Linked DNA regions of Homo sapiens. The protein of the gene in region 3 interacts with the protein of the main gene of each other region in a pairwise test. Each region holds a gene or a part of one and is shown on either strand. Other genes may lie near its edges.

The links.
Region 1: the proteins of STK4 (region 3) and CSRP2 interact in a two-hybrid assay, tested with the Homo sapiens proteins (one large-scale study listed by IntAct).
Region 2: the proteins of STK4 (region 3) and TRIM69 interact in a two-hybrid assay, tested with the Homo sapiens proteins (one study listed by BioGRID).
Region 4: the proteins of STK4 (region 3) and SOD2 interact in a two-hybrid assay, tested with the Homo sapiens proteins (one large-scale study listed by IntAct).

What each region holds. Positions count from the first base shown.
Region 1 is NC_000012.12:76,869,020-76,872,519, forward strand, and holds part of CSRP2 (cysteine and glycine-rich protein 2), read right to left. Parts: intron 833-3,500; exon of another isoform or gene 680-832; intron 1-679.
Region 2 is NC_000015.10:44,760,528-44,764,027, reverse strand, and holds part of TRIM69 (E3 ubiquitin-protein ligase TRIM69), read right to left. Parts: intron 1-3,500.
Region 3 is NC_000020.11:45,074,512-45,077,516, reverse strand, and holds part of STK4 (serine/threonine-protein kinase 4), read right to left. Parts: intron 2,500-3,005; coding exon 2,341-2,499; 3' UTR 1-2,340. UniProt on the Homo sapiens protein: Stress-activated, pro-apoptotic kinase which, following caspase-cleavage, enters the nucleus and induces chromatin condensation followed by internucleosomal DNA fragmentation.
Region 4 is NC_000006.12:159,686,742-159,690,241, forward strand, and holds part of SOD2 (superoxide dismutase [Mn], mitochondrial isoform A precursor), read right to left. Parts: intron 1,502-3,500; coding exon 1,385-1,501; intron 1-1,384. UniProt on the Homo sapiens protein: Destroys superoxide anion radicals which are normally produced within the cells and which are toxic to biological systems.

The DNA.
Region 1 (3,500 bases), on a different chromosome or scaffold from region 3:
ACAGTATACCAGAGACTAGGTAATTTATAAAGAACAGACTGAGAATATAAATATTTGAAGGCTGGGAAGTCCAAGATCAAGGTATGGCAGGTTTAGTGTCTGCTAAGGGCCCCATCTCTGCTGCAAAATGGTGCCTCCAATGCAGCATCCTCTGGAGGCCAGGAACACTGTACCTTACATGGCAGAAGAGCAGAGGAGGGTGAACCCGCTCCCACCAGGCCTTTTTATGGTGGTACTAATCCATTCAAGAGAGTGGATCCCTCATGACCTAAACATCTCCCATTAGGCCCAACTCCCAACGTTGTTGCATTGGGAATTAAGTTTTAACATGATTCTCAGAGGGGACAAAAACACTCAAACCATAGCAACCCCCAACTCCAAGGCTGGGCATGTGACTCAGTCACGGCCAATCAACTGTGCCTTATCTTATCCTGCATGCCTCAGTTATGAGCCAATAAATTCCCTTCTTAAGTCATTTGGAATTGGAGCTCCTGTTCCTTAAAACAAACAACACACACACACACACACACACACACACACACACACACACACACACACACCCCTGACTGGTATGGCTTGTTATCACTAAAATGTAAGTCTGAATTTGCAAAAAGCCAACTTCTCTTAACCAGACAGGAACAAAGTCATTCCAAGGGTCCACAAATGTTACCAGGCTTACCGTGAAGGCATCCATATAGGATCAGTATCTTGCGACAATAGGACATGTTTACAAGCTTTCCTTTTGTAGCTGCATAAATCTTTTATTCTCCTCCCTGGAGACAGGCACTCCATTGTTGAAATCCAGAGTGAAACATAAGCCTGGCGGTAAAACCTAAGACATAAAGCCTTGGCTCCAACAGCCTGCACTGACCCGTGTTTGTAGTACAGTTAGAGAAACTGACCTTGCCCCTTGCCTCCAAAGCTACCTGTATTCTGAATGCTCATGGATGCAACAGACATCTGCTGGAAGTTCCCTCATGATTCCTGCAGAACCAAAGGCCAAATCCAGGCCTCCAGGTAATGACACTACAATTACTTATATTGGATCCCAAGTTATCAACTGGTTCTTAAAATACTTTGTTGTTGTCGAGGCATTTCTATCATTGAAACATTTCTCATATTAGAAAGTGAACTGTTAATACCAACTTGGTATTTTTCATTTTCACACATATTTACTTTGGAGCAATCACCAGTAAGGAGCCAGATTGCTATCACGACTGAGGCTAGACTAGGCTGTCTTTGAATAACACTTAAAAATACATTAAAAGGAAAACCCAACTAATAACCTTGTTATTCTCTTCCATACCATTGAAGAACAGCCTGGATTTTTAAGAAAGAAGGAATATCTTCCCTTTCTTTATGTAATTCAGGGTTTCTTTAAACTTACTTATTCTAAGTTAACTGCACCAGCCAAACGTAAATGTGTCAGCTTTTCAGGAAATACCTATCAAAGTTCCACAACATTCAACTTACTGTGCAATAAGTTTCTGGTCCCTTGATGGTGGGGACCACATCTCTGTATTCTCCACACCATCTATCAGAGTATTTGCATATATCAAAATATTGCAGTTCTATCCAGCTTAAGGGCTTTCCTAAGGATTTCTGAATAACCTTTTCTGTGATAGAGGGAAATGATGTAACAAAAGAACATTGTCAGAAAGCTTCAGTTGGATTTACATTTTTTTTTTTTTAAGATGGTTAGGGAGCCAGGTGTGGTAGCTCATGCCTGTAATCCCAACACTTTGGAATTTGGAATTTAGGGAGACGCTATATTACCTATATTTAAAACAAATTTAAAAAGAAATTAGCCAGGCATGGTGGCACACACCTCTGGTCCCAGCTACTTGGGAGGCTGAAGTGGGAGGATTGCTTGTGCTGGGAATGTCAAGGCTACAGTGAGCTATGATTGCACCACTGCACTCCAGCCTGGGCAACAGAGCAAGATGACCCTGTCTCAAAAAAAAAAAAAAAAAAAAAAAAAGTGGATGGTGATAGTTGAATATTCCTTATATTGTTCTCTACTTTGTATGTCTGAACTATTTCATAATGGAAGGAGGGAGAGGAAGTTGATTGACTGGTTTAAACACACCTGGATTAACTCCACCGTTATAATAGCTGCGCAACCTTGGGCTTCATTTTCTCAAGCTAAAAATGGGGATAGGTAGCTCTCTCTACCCACAGAAATATTGTGAAGGCAAGATAAGGTAAGCAAATGCCTTGGCAGGAATCCAGTAGCTGTCAGCTTGAAGACAGAGGGGACATCTCACTCTATCCAGCCTGCTATCAGTACTCTAGTAGGAAAACCCACCAACCAGCACCTAGAACATAGCTGCAGAGCAACAAACAAGGTAAGGACAAAACTGAGCTGATTGGTCACTATAAACCTTCTTTTTTGGGGACATTAAAATGCACTCCAAAGTAAAGCAACAGTTCCACATATGGTGGTGACTGTCTAAGAAACAAAGTTCAAGCCGGATGCGGTGGCTCACGCCTGTAATCCCAGCACTTTGGGAGGCCAAGGCGGGCAGATCACGAGGTCAGGAGATCAAGACCATCCTGGCTAACACGGTGAAACCCCGTCTCTACTAAAAATACTTAGCCGGGCGCGGTGGCAGGTGCCTGTAGTCCCAGCTACTCGGGAGGCTGAGGCAGGAGAATGGCGTGAACCCAGGAGGTGGAGCTTGCAGTGAGCCGAGATAGTGCCACTGCAGTCCCGCCTGGGTGAAACTGCAAGACTCCGACTCAAAAAAAAAAAAAAAAGAAAAGAAACGAAGTTCAAATTTGCACTTTTAGGCTGAACCTCTAATGGACATTTCCTGAATTTGGCTGGAAGAAGTATGATGATCTTCCATTTCTGTCACTCTTGGCATTGCTGTGCATAAAAAAAAAAAAAAGCAAGTCTTCATTTTTCTTACAAGCCTTTGGCCGTACTACTCCACTACAGCTGCCATTAATCACAGCAAACTGGATTTGCACTAAGCAATCTGGGCTGCATGCCTTTCCCAAATCCTAGGCATTAATTTACAGAATGGTAAAAGCAAAAATAAAATCCCACTTTACATGTGATAAAATAGGGCAAATTCTGTTTCTCAGTCTTGTTCCTTGTTTTTCAGTGTCTGAAAGAGTTCCAGCACTAGGATTTATCCACTGTATTACATGTTACAACGTGATTTATATCTGAACACCTATGTGCAATTTCTCCTTGCTACCTCTTCTTAGCCTAAGATGCCACCAAAATTCATAAGACTCACCCATGCGGAAAAACTGATATAGTCTAAGTCTGAGTCGTCTTATGGTACAGTTAGCTCACTCTCTAGATAACTGTGGTAGGAGTTATTACGAAATTATTTTAGGCAGATAGAGAGGAAAAGGGGTCCTTGGGAAGTTTTCATTTTTTAAAGCATCTCTGGAAAAGTTTCTTGTAAAGCCCTGGCTCTTAGAGCCAGGCCAGCAACCTTTGATATGCAAATGCAGGCCATGTGGGCCATGCAAATGCCCCA
Region 2 (3,500 bases), on a different chromosome or scaffold from region 3:
ACTCGTCAAGGCCAGAGAAAGAACCTCCAGAAATCAATAGACTGAACAATTTCTGGAGCTCACACAAGGCTGGGAATAATTTTCAATCTTGCCAACCAGAATGGAAAAATGTCGTAATATGTCAACGTCAGGTAGGGTAATCAGAAGGGTATATTACTTTAGAAAATGGGCTAAGTTAGCCCTAGATTAAAGGCTGCTCTTGAGCCACTCTAACTAGGCTTTATTTAAGCCTCAGAAGGAACAAAATGATGTCATACCATGTTAACTGCATGCCAGAGTTAAATTCAATAGAACTGAAAGAACTACAACAAAATCCAGCAAATACAAAATTCACCAATATGAATTCATCAGTACAAACAATATGAAATTCATCATATTTGGCATCCAGTAAAAAATTACCAACCAGAAGAGACAAATCTCCAGGGCAGCAAAATTTCAAATAATTTACATTAATACACTACCCTCAGGGAGAGGGAGCATAACTATCCCCTCCTTAAGCGTGGGCTGTGCACAATGACTGCCTTCCAAAGTATACAAGTATAGAAGGAGGGAAAAAGAGTACAGTGGAGAAACCTGACAGACACTTCCTCAGCCAGGTGATTAAAGTCAACATCAATAGTCATAAATCATGTTGACGGTATGAACACTTAATGTGATGTGATGACAATGACACTTTAATGCTACTGTCTTCCTCTCCCAATTAATAACCCAAATTTTATGAGGAAAACATCAAACAAATTGCAATAGTGCAGCATCCTTACAAAATATATGACCAGTACTCCTCAAAACTATCTAAGTCATAAAAAATAAGGCAAGCCTGAGAAACTGTCACAGCCAAGGGGCACCTAAAGAAAATGACAACTTAGTGTAATGTGGCACCTTAGATGGAAACCTAAAACAGAAAAATGACATTAGGTAAAAACTAAGAAAATCTAAAGGAACTATGGATTTCAGTTAATAATGTATCAATTTGGTTCATTAGTTGTTAAAAATGTTAAATCTAAGATGTTAATAATAGAGAAAAGTGAGGATGGGGCATATAAAAAACTCTATACTATCTTCTCAGTTTTTCTGTAAAATTAAAAAATCTAAAAGTGTCCTAAAAAATAAAGCCCATTAAAAAGAAAAAGATTACTAGCCATACAAAGCAGCAGGAAAATATGACTCTCAGGAGAACAATCAAACAATAAAATCAGGCCCAGAAATGACAATGATGATAGAATTAGCAGACAAGGATATTAAAATGGATAAATGTCTTCCATTTTTTCAAGAATGTAGAGGAAGGCATGAACATGGTGAGAAGAGATAAGAAAGATATAAAAAGACCCAAATGAAACTTCTAGAAATGAAATGTATATAAAATGAAAATATCTTGAACAATATTAACAGAAGGTTAGACCATGCAGAAGAAAAGATGAGAACTTGAATAACAATAGAAACCATTTAAAATAAAGTGTGAGGTGAAAAAAGGCTAAAAAAGTACTGAATATCGATGACATGAGACAACTTGACAATATCAAGTTGTCTAAAATATGTAAAATTAGACTCCAAGAAGGAGAGGAGAAAAGGGGTTGGTAAAAAAGTATTTGAAGAAATACCAGCTGATATTATTCAAAATTTGATGAAAATTATAAACCCTTAGATCCAAGCAGCTCAATGACGCACAAGCAGAATAAATACAAAGAAAATCACACCAAGACCACGTATAATCAAATTGATGGAAGCAAGTGACAAAAAGCAAGTCCTAAAATTAGCCAGAGATGGCCAGGTGCGGTGGCTCACGCCTGTAATCCCAGTACTTTGGGAGGCCGAGGCGGGCAGATCACGAGGTCAGGTGATCGAGACCATCCTGGCTAACATGGTGAAACCCCATCTCTACTAAAAATGCAAAAAAATTAGCCGGGCGTGGTGGCGGGCACCTGTAGTCCCAGCTATTTGGGAGGCTGAGGCAGGAGAATGGCGTGAACCTGGGAGGCGGAGCTTGCAGTGAGCCGAGATTGCACCACACTCCAGCCTGGGTGACAGAGTGAGACTCCATCTCAAAAAAATAAATAAATAAAAATAAATTGAAAAGGCAAGCCATGGAGTGAGAAAAAATATTTAAGAAACATATATCTGATAAAGGATTTGTATCCTTTACAACTTAATAATACAACAATTTAACAAAAATATAGACAAAAGTTTGAACACAACCAAAAAAATATATGAATGGCAAGGAAGCACCTGAAAGGACGCTCAACAGGATTGCTCATTAGGGATATGCAGCCGGGCACCACGGCTCATGCCTGTAATTTCAACACTTTAGGAGGCTGAGGTGGATGGATCACTTAAGGCCAGGAGTTCAAGATCAGCCTGGCCAACATGGCAAAACCTCATCTCTACTAAAAATACAAAAATTAGCTAGGCATGGCAGTGCGCGCCTGTAATTCCAGCTACTGGGGAGTCTGAGGCGCAAGAATCACTTGAGCTTCGGAGGCAGAGGTTGCAGTGAGTTGAGATGCACCACTGTACTCTAGCCTGGACATCAGAGTGAGACTCTGTCCCACCCTCCCACCAAAACAAGAGATATACAAATTAAAACCACAATAAGATACTACTATACATTCAATAAAATGGTTTAAATTAAAAAGATTGACAATATCAAGTTTTGGAAAGGATATAGAGAAACTGGGATTTTCACTAATTGCAGGATGGATAAAACTACCATGGACTACCCCATGTCCATCAACTGGGAAATGAATAAGTAAACTGAATAAATAATCATGATTATTGATACATGGAACAACATAAGTGCTCAAAAAGCATTATGCGGCCTGGCGCAGTGGCTCATACCTGTAATCCCAGCACTTTGGGAGGCTGAGGCGGGCAGATCACGAGGTCAGGAGATCGAGACCATCCTGGCTAACAGGGTGAAACCCCGTCTCTACTGAAAATATAAAAAAATTAGCCGGGCATGGTGGCAGGCGCCTGTAGTCCCAGCTACTCGGGAGGCTGAGGCAGGAGAATGGCATGAACCCTGGAGGCAGAGCTTGCAGTGAGCAGAGATGGCACCACTGCACTCCAGCCTGGGCAACAGAGCGAGACTCCATCTCAAAAAAAAAAAAAATTATGCTAAGTGAAAAAAACCAGAAGACACAAAACACTACATAATGTATGCTATCACTTAGACAAAAATTTAGAAAAGACACATTTAAAGTGAAATAAAACATGTCAGTGAATGTTAGAGGCTGAGAGTAGAAGGAAGAGATTGATTTCAAAGGGGCATGTAGGAACTTTTTGGAGTGATAAAAATCTTCTATATTTTGATTATGGAGAGGTTTACCTAAGTGTATATATACATCAGAACTCATCAAATTGTGCCCTTAAAATTGGATAATTTTACTCTATGTTAACTATATCTCAGTATAGTTGATTTTTCTTCAATGTCAATTACCTGGAAAAATTTGCGATTTTTCATTAAATCAGGGATATATTTGTGATTTCTCATTAAATCAATAACC
Region 3 (3,005 bases):
CAGAAGAATCGCTTGAACCCGGGAGGCGGAGGTTGCAGTGAGCCAAGATCGTGCCATTGTACTCCAGCCTGGGCGACAAGAGCGAAAATCCATCTCAAAGAATAAAAAGAAAAAAGAAAGAGAGAGAGAGACAGAACTATTAATTCGCACAGCAAATGGTGCAGGGGTGTGCATCCTGGATGCTTTGGTTTTTAAAACTTACTTGGCTATCAGACTTAACTACTAATTCAGCTGTCTTTCCAACCTAAAAATGCCAGTTCGAGTTATTTAGTCTATGCAAGAAAAGGTGGTCACTTCATTTTAAACAGGCTTGTGACTTTCCTTTTTTGTGTAAATATTGACCCCCTATAGTGATGCTATGAATCCTGATTCTATCATTTACTAGCTGCATGACCTTGGGAAGGAATCTTTCTCTCTGAACTTATTTCTTCAACTACAAAATGGAGATAAAGTAGTTAAGTCACAGGGTTATTGTGAAGTTTAGAGCCTACCCAGCTCAGTGCCTGATATATAATAGGTGCTCAACAAATGGTAGCTGTCATTTATTATTCCAGCAAGATCCTCAAATTGTCCTCTGTTTTCCGTATCCGCCACATAGCTATTTCAGTTGCCAAGCCCTGAAGACTAACAACTGCCTCTTGCATTTTTTAAAAACTTGCTTTAATTGCAAATAACAGAATCTGGCCACAGAAGAGGCACATTCCCTGCCTTTCCATTGATTCCCAGGTTTCAGGAGCAAAAGCAATTATGGAGTCAAATTACAGTATCCTGAGGTGCAACCCAGTCATGGCTCCCCATCTGAGGGAAAGAGGTAAAGTTGCAGGAAGATGGCTCTATGCTGTCTTTTGCAAAGCCCTCTGATCTGCTTCAGGCCCGAAACCTGCCTCCATGGGTGCTTGTCTGCTATATCTGGTAGATGTTGTGGAGCTCAAGGACTCGCTGAAACTGAATGATCTGGCTCGTCCAGGGAATCTCTTTACAGCCAGGTCATCTACTGAAGAGCCAAGGCAAGAGCAAGTTTCTGTTAGCAAGGTTCCCTGGAACAATTAACCAAGACTGACACAGGTCTCTTCCCCCAAAGAAGGGGCTGCATGGTTCGGTGGCCTGGGAGTGAGGACCCTGAATTCTAGTCTCAGCTCTTAACGCTAACTTGCTTTGTGATTTTGGCCATTCCCCTCTCTACACCTCAGTTTTGCGATCATCCGTACAAGAGGATCAGATCAGATGATCTCTATAGTCCCTTCCAGCTCTGACATTCTGTGTGTTCAGATTGAGCCTCCTGGAAAACAAATCTTAGTCTAATATTCATTTATCCTTTCCAGGCTGCTTAGCAGTAAAAGAGAAAAGAAAACAGTCACATATTTGAACGTGGGTCACAAAAGCAATCCCCTCTACCCCTGTGTGTAAGGAATGTGGAGCAACATGCCACGTGTATGATTTTTACATGAACAATGAGAGCTTCAAAAACGCTTTTCCTTTGTGGACTGAACACAGTCCCGTGTTTGCTGAGAGTCCCTGGTAGAGATCATGTCTCCTCTTAAGGCACTGGGCAGTATCTGTGCTGTGACTTTAGGCAGTTGAGAGAGTGGAGATGGATGAAAGGCATTGAAAGAGCAAAGGCCAATTTGCAAAGAGGGTGCCAGGCTTCTCCTGGGACTCAAAGAGTAAACATAAACTCTCAAAGCTTTCCCTTGGACATCACCAATAGCTCCAGAAGCCAGTGATGACCACACAAGGCTGAAACCACGGTACAAGAACTGTCCCAAACCTAATTTTTAAATGCAGCCCTGCAAAGGGGGAGGTTGGCTCCTGGGATTCAGTGACCCCCTAACAGCCTCCCGGTGTCCTCTGCCCTCATGTTCCACAGTACCATAATCTTACAGAAAAGAGGCAAACCGTTTAAAACTGTACCTGTACAGAGATGCCACCACACTGCGTGGGGAATCTATTTATAATTTATATATATATATGCATATTTATATTTTTTTAAAAGTCTTCCAGAAAGAACAATTGAAAGCTATTGGGAGAAGAAAAACAGACAATGTAAAACTTTCCCAGCTATCACTCAACTAGGAGTCTCTGTTCCTGGGGTTTAAAACTCTGAGTTAAAAGCGCCAATATAAATCCTTTGAGATAATATACCTGACCAATGTACATACACACATCAAGATGGCACGCTGACTGTCAAGAGAGCCCTTCCCACTGGCGCACATTCCTGAGTTCACAAAGGTGCTGTGGAGAGACGACAGAGCAGAAGTGCTGGCTAACAAACATGAGGCAAGCCATCCAGAATTCACCCAAAGCCTGGGTGGAGCTGGGGCCCTCACAGCCTGGCCTTGCTCAGAAGTTTTGTTGCCGTCTCTTCTTAGCCTCTATGGCATCCAGGATGGGCTGCCGCTTGGACTGGTACTTCTGCCGGATCTCTTCAATCTCCTGCTCCATCATGGGGTCCAGGGCCAAGAGCCTCTTCTGAAGGTCCTCCACTGTCCAACTCTTAAGCTAGAAGAGAAGTGGAAGGTATAGTCACGACAAAGCTTAAGTCAGTGGCAGAACAGTGCAGAAGCCCAGCCTTCCCAGGCACCCAGAGGGAAGGGAGACAGGAGGAAGACACTGTGGTCAGATCACAGGTTGAGTGGTGGTGGTTGGAAAGTGACAATTCATTCCAAAGCATGGCATACCTTGAAGCTTGTCTGAGATAATTTATCCCTGGAAGAGATCTAAGTGCTAACCGCTTTGATTTAATGTGCCTTGACCAAGAACTTAGTGAATAATACTCTCACCTCCCCTATCTTTTAAGTTAATTAAATATAGATTCATTGTTAGGGCATTAAAATAACAGTAACTTGCTGTATGTGAAATAATGGTTGCCTCCCCGTTCTTGTTCTGTCTACGAGATAAGCGTCTATCTGGACAGCGCCTTTCCCACTTTCAGGATACGACACCATGGAGGATCGATGCTGATGAGGCGCAGATGCCATCCCCTAACCCTGCCTTCCCACACCCCC
Region 4 (3,500 bases), on a different chromosome or scaffold from region 3:
GCTTATTTCAAGTGCATAAGATAGGCTGCCTTCCATAACACTGATTAAAAATGAACAATAAAACCACAGAAACTTAGGGTGCATATCCGGAGCCCAGAAACAAGAGACAAGAACTACATTTACGCCTCATGCCCTCCCTGGGTGAAGAAGATAATTAAAGTCATCTGGGCCTCCACAAGCTACACAGGAAGTCAAGGAAACAGTGATAGCGAACAAGACCATCTAGCCCTGTACTCTCCTCATTCCCTGAACACTTTTTAAAAATACCCAGAAAACCTAATTTCCTGGAACAACTGACTTTTTATCAGTTAGGAAAGAGTGAAAAATAGCAAATGACACTATAATTTAATTCTCAAAACAACACCATTGTTATCCCTGTATCACATAGATGAAAAAAGGTACAGACGGTTAACTATCTAATCCAGGCCCTAGAAACTAGTAGACAGAAAGTTCATCTTTTCTAGACTGGCGCGGTGGCTCACATCCATACCACAGCACTTTGGGAGGCCAAGGTGGGTGGATCACTTGAGGCCAGGAGTTCGAGACCAGCCCCGCCAACATGGTGAAACCCTGTCTCTACCAAAAATATAAAAATTAGCCGGGAGTGATGCCACATGCCTGTAATCCCAGCTACTTGGGTGGCTGAGACACAAGAATTGCATGAACCTGAAAGGCGGAGGTTGCAATGAGCCGACATTGCACCACTGCGCTCCAGCCTGGGCGACTGTAAGACTCCGTCTCAAAAAAAAAAAGTTCATAAAATGAAGTCTCTCAGTCTTTCCCTAATATGAAGTACCATCCAGAAACCAGAAGGTGGAGTTGATGTGATATTCTATGTTGGCGTGAACATAAAATCTTATGACATAACCCCATGAAAGCATTCTCCATTCCTACTTGTGTCCTTTTGAAAGTTACAACTTTTATCATACTCGTTGTTATGAAAAATATGCCACTATGATACCTCTGGTAAGAATAAGGTAACTTAGGCCAGGCACGGTGGCTCATGCCTGTAATCCCAGCACTTTGGGAGGCCAAGGTGGGCAGATCATGAGGTCAGGAGTTCAAGACCAGCCTGGCCAACATGGTGAATGAAACCTCATCTCTACTAAAAATGCAAAAATTAGCCAGGCGTGGTGGCGGGCGCCTGTAATCCCAGCTACTTGGGAGGCTGAGGCAGGAGAATCACTTGAACCCAGGAAGCGGAGGTTGCAGTGAGCCAAGACTGCGCCACTGTACTCCAGCCTGGGCAACAAGAGCAAAACTCTTGTCTCAAAAAAACAACAACAAAAAAAACAAAAAACAAGTATAAGGTAACTTCAGTAAATCAACAATCGATTCCTACTGTGCACAAAATGTAGATAAGGGTGCACCAATATATACCAACCTTTGGGTTCTCCACCACCGTTAGGGCTGAGGTTTGTCCAGAAAATGCTATGATTGATATGACCACCACCATTGAACTTCAGTGCAGGCTGAAGAGCTATCTGGGCTGTAACATCTCCTGAAAAGTTAAAATGCAAACACATTTTTTTGTAACTCCTACTTTTTCAACCACTGTATACATTATATTTTTTTCTTTGTAAGCTATTAGATAATGGGACCAGCTTATCTATAACATCCGTTTGTCCTAAAATTCAGCACCCCCCCGCCCCAAAATTATTTGTCCCAGACATGCTGAACAACTGATGAAGGACCTAGCAGAGGTGGAAAAGCTAGAAAATTCACTCCTGGCTGCTAGGCTCAGGGATCTCTTAGATAGAAGAGATTTTAGGAAATGAAACACCAAAGAGGACAATCAAAATAATAGAATGCTAAAATGTATGGCTCAACATACAGACTGTACAGAAAACCTTCAACTCTCACTTTCAAGACAGACGACGATTCATTGGGAAATATCTCCAAGTCACATTAACAAGAAACTCAACATACTCAAAATTGAACTCCTGATGTTCTACCCCAAACTTACTCCTCCTATTGTCCTCCACGTCTCAGTAAATGCCAGCTCTGTCCCTCAGGACATCCTTGGGAACCTGATGTCATTTTTGACTCCTCTCCCTTCACCCCACATCCAATCCACCAGCATATCCATTAGCAAAGCCAGCTCTACCTTTAAAATACATCCAATCTATATAAAAGCACACAGAGAAAAATAAAAGAAAAAAATAAAACACAAGCAGAACCTAATCCCTTCTCCCTAACTCTACTGCCACCTCATTGGGACAGAGGACCAGTATTTCTCACTGCACTGGTGCCACTATCCCCTCAGTTTTGGGGGGTGGGGGTGGGCCTTGCCCCCTCCAAAGGCTCCCCTTCTCACTGGAGCGAACCCTAGGTGTTTACACTCAGCTACTCTTACTACCAAGAGGCGCTGCACTTGACCCCGTCATTGAGCACGTGCTCACGCAGCTGCAGCCTCACTGGCCTTTTTGCACTCACATGACCAACTTGGATGTTCCCCTCAAGGCTAGCTGAGCACTGCTGCCTCTGCTGAACACTCTTCCCCAAGACAGTCTCATGCTGCGTTCCTGTTCCTCCTTCAAGTCTCCACTGAAACATCAACCCCATCAGTGAAGCCTTCTCTAGCCACCATACATGAATTAGCAACTCCCTGCCACCCCTCCCAGACCCTTTACTCCTTCTCAATAGGCCCTGTAACTCCTGGCATACTGCATGGGTACCTTGCCAAATAAGTAGGCAAAATAAAATAGTCTTTTCTATGCCTTCAAGAAGCTACAGACTAAATGAACTATTAATATTAGAAAAAAATGGAAATCCTCTTGTTTAATAAATATTTTGTGCATATTATCCACAAGATACCAAGAGAAGCAAAGTAAAGGACACAGAGACCCACTGAGAGCTTTGCTCTCAAGGAGCTTACATTTTGGAAAAAGTTCTCAACTGCTGTTCTGAAAGTGTACGTTAAGAACATATGTCTGGGCCGGGTGCGGTGGCTCACGCCTGTAATCTCAGCACTTTGGGAAGCCGAGGCGGGCAGCTCTCTTCAGGTCAGGATTTCAAGACCGGCCTGGCCAACATGGTGAAACCCTGTCTTCACTAAAAATACAGAAATTAGCCAGGTATGGTGGCGCGTGCCTATAATCCCAGCTACTCAGGAGCATGAGGCAGGAGAATGGCTTGAACCCAGGAGGCAGAGGTTGCAGTGAACCAAGAACACGCCACTGCACTCCAGCCTGGGCGACAGGGCAATACTCCGTCACAGAAAAAAAAAAAGAAAGAGAAAGAAAAAAACATACATACAAGGCCAGGTGAGGTGGCTCACGCCTGTAATCCCAGCACTTTGGGAGGCTGAGATGGGCGGATCACTTGAGGTCAGGAGTTCCAGACCAGCCTGGACGACATGGAAAAACCCTGTCTCTACTAAAAAACCCACAAAAAGTAGCCAGGCGTGGTGGCGTACGCCTGTAATCCCAGCTACTCAGGAGGCTGAGGCAGGAGAATTGCTTGAACCCAGGAGACGGAGGTTGTAGTGAGCCGAGATC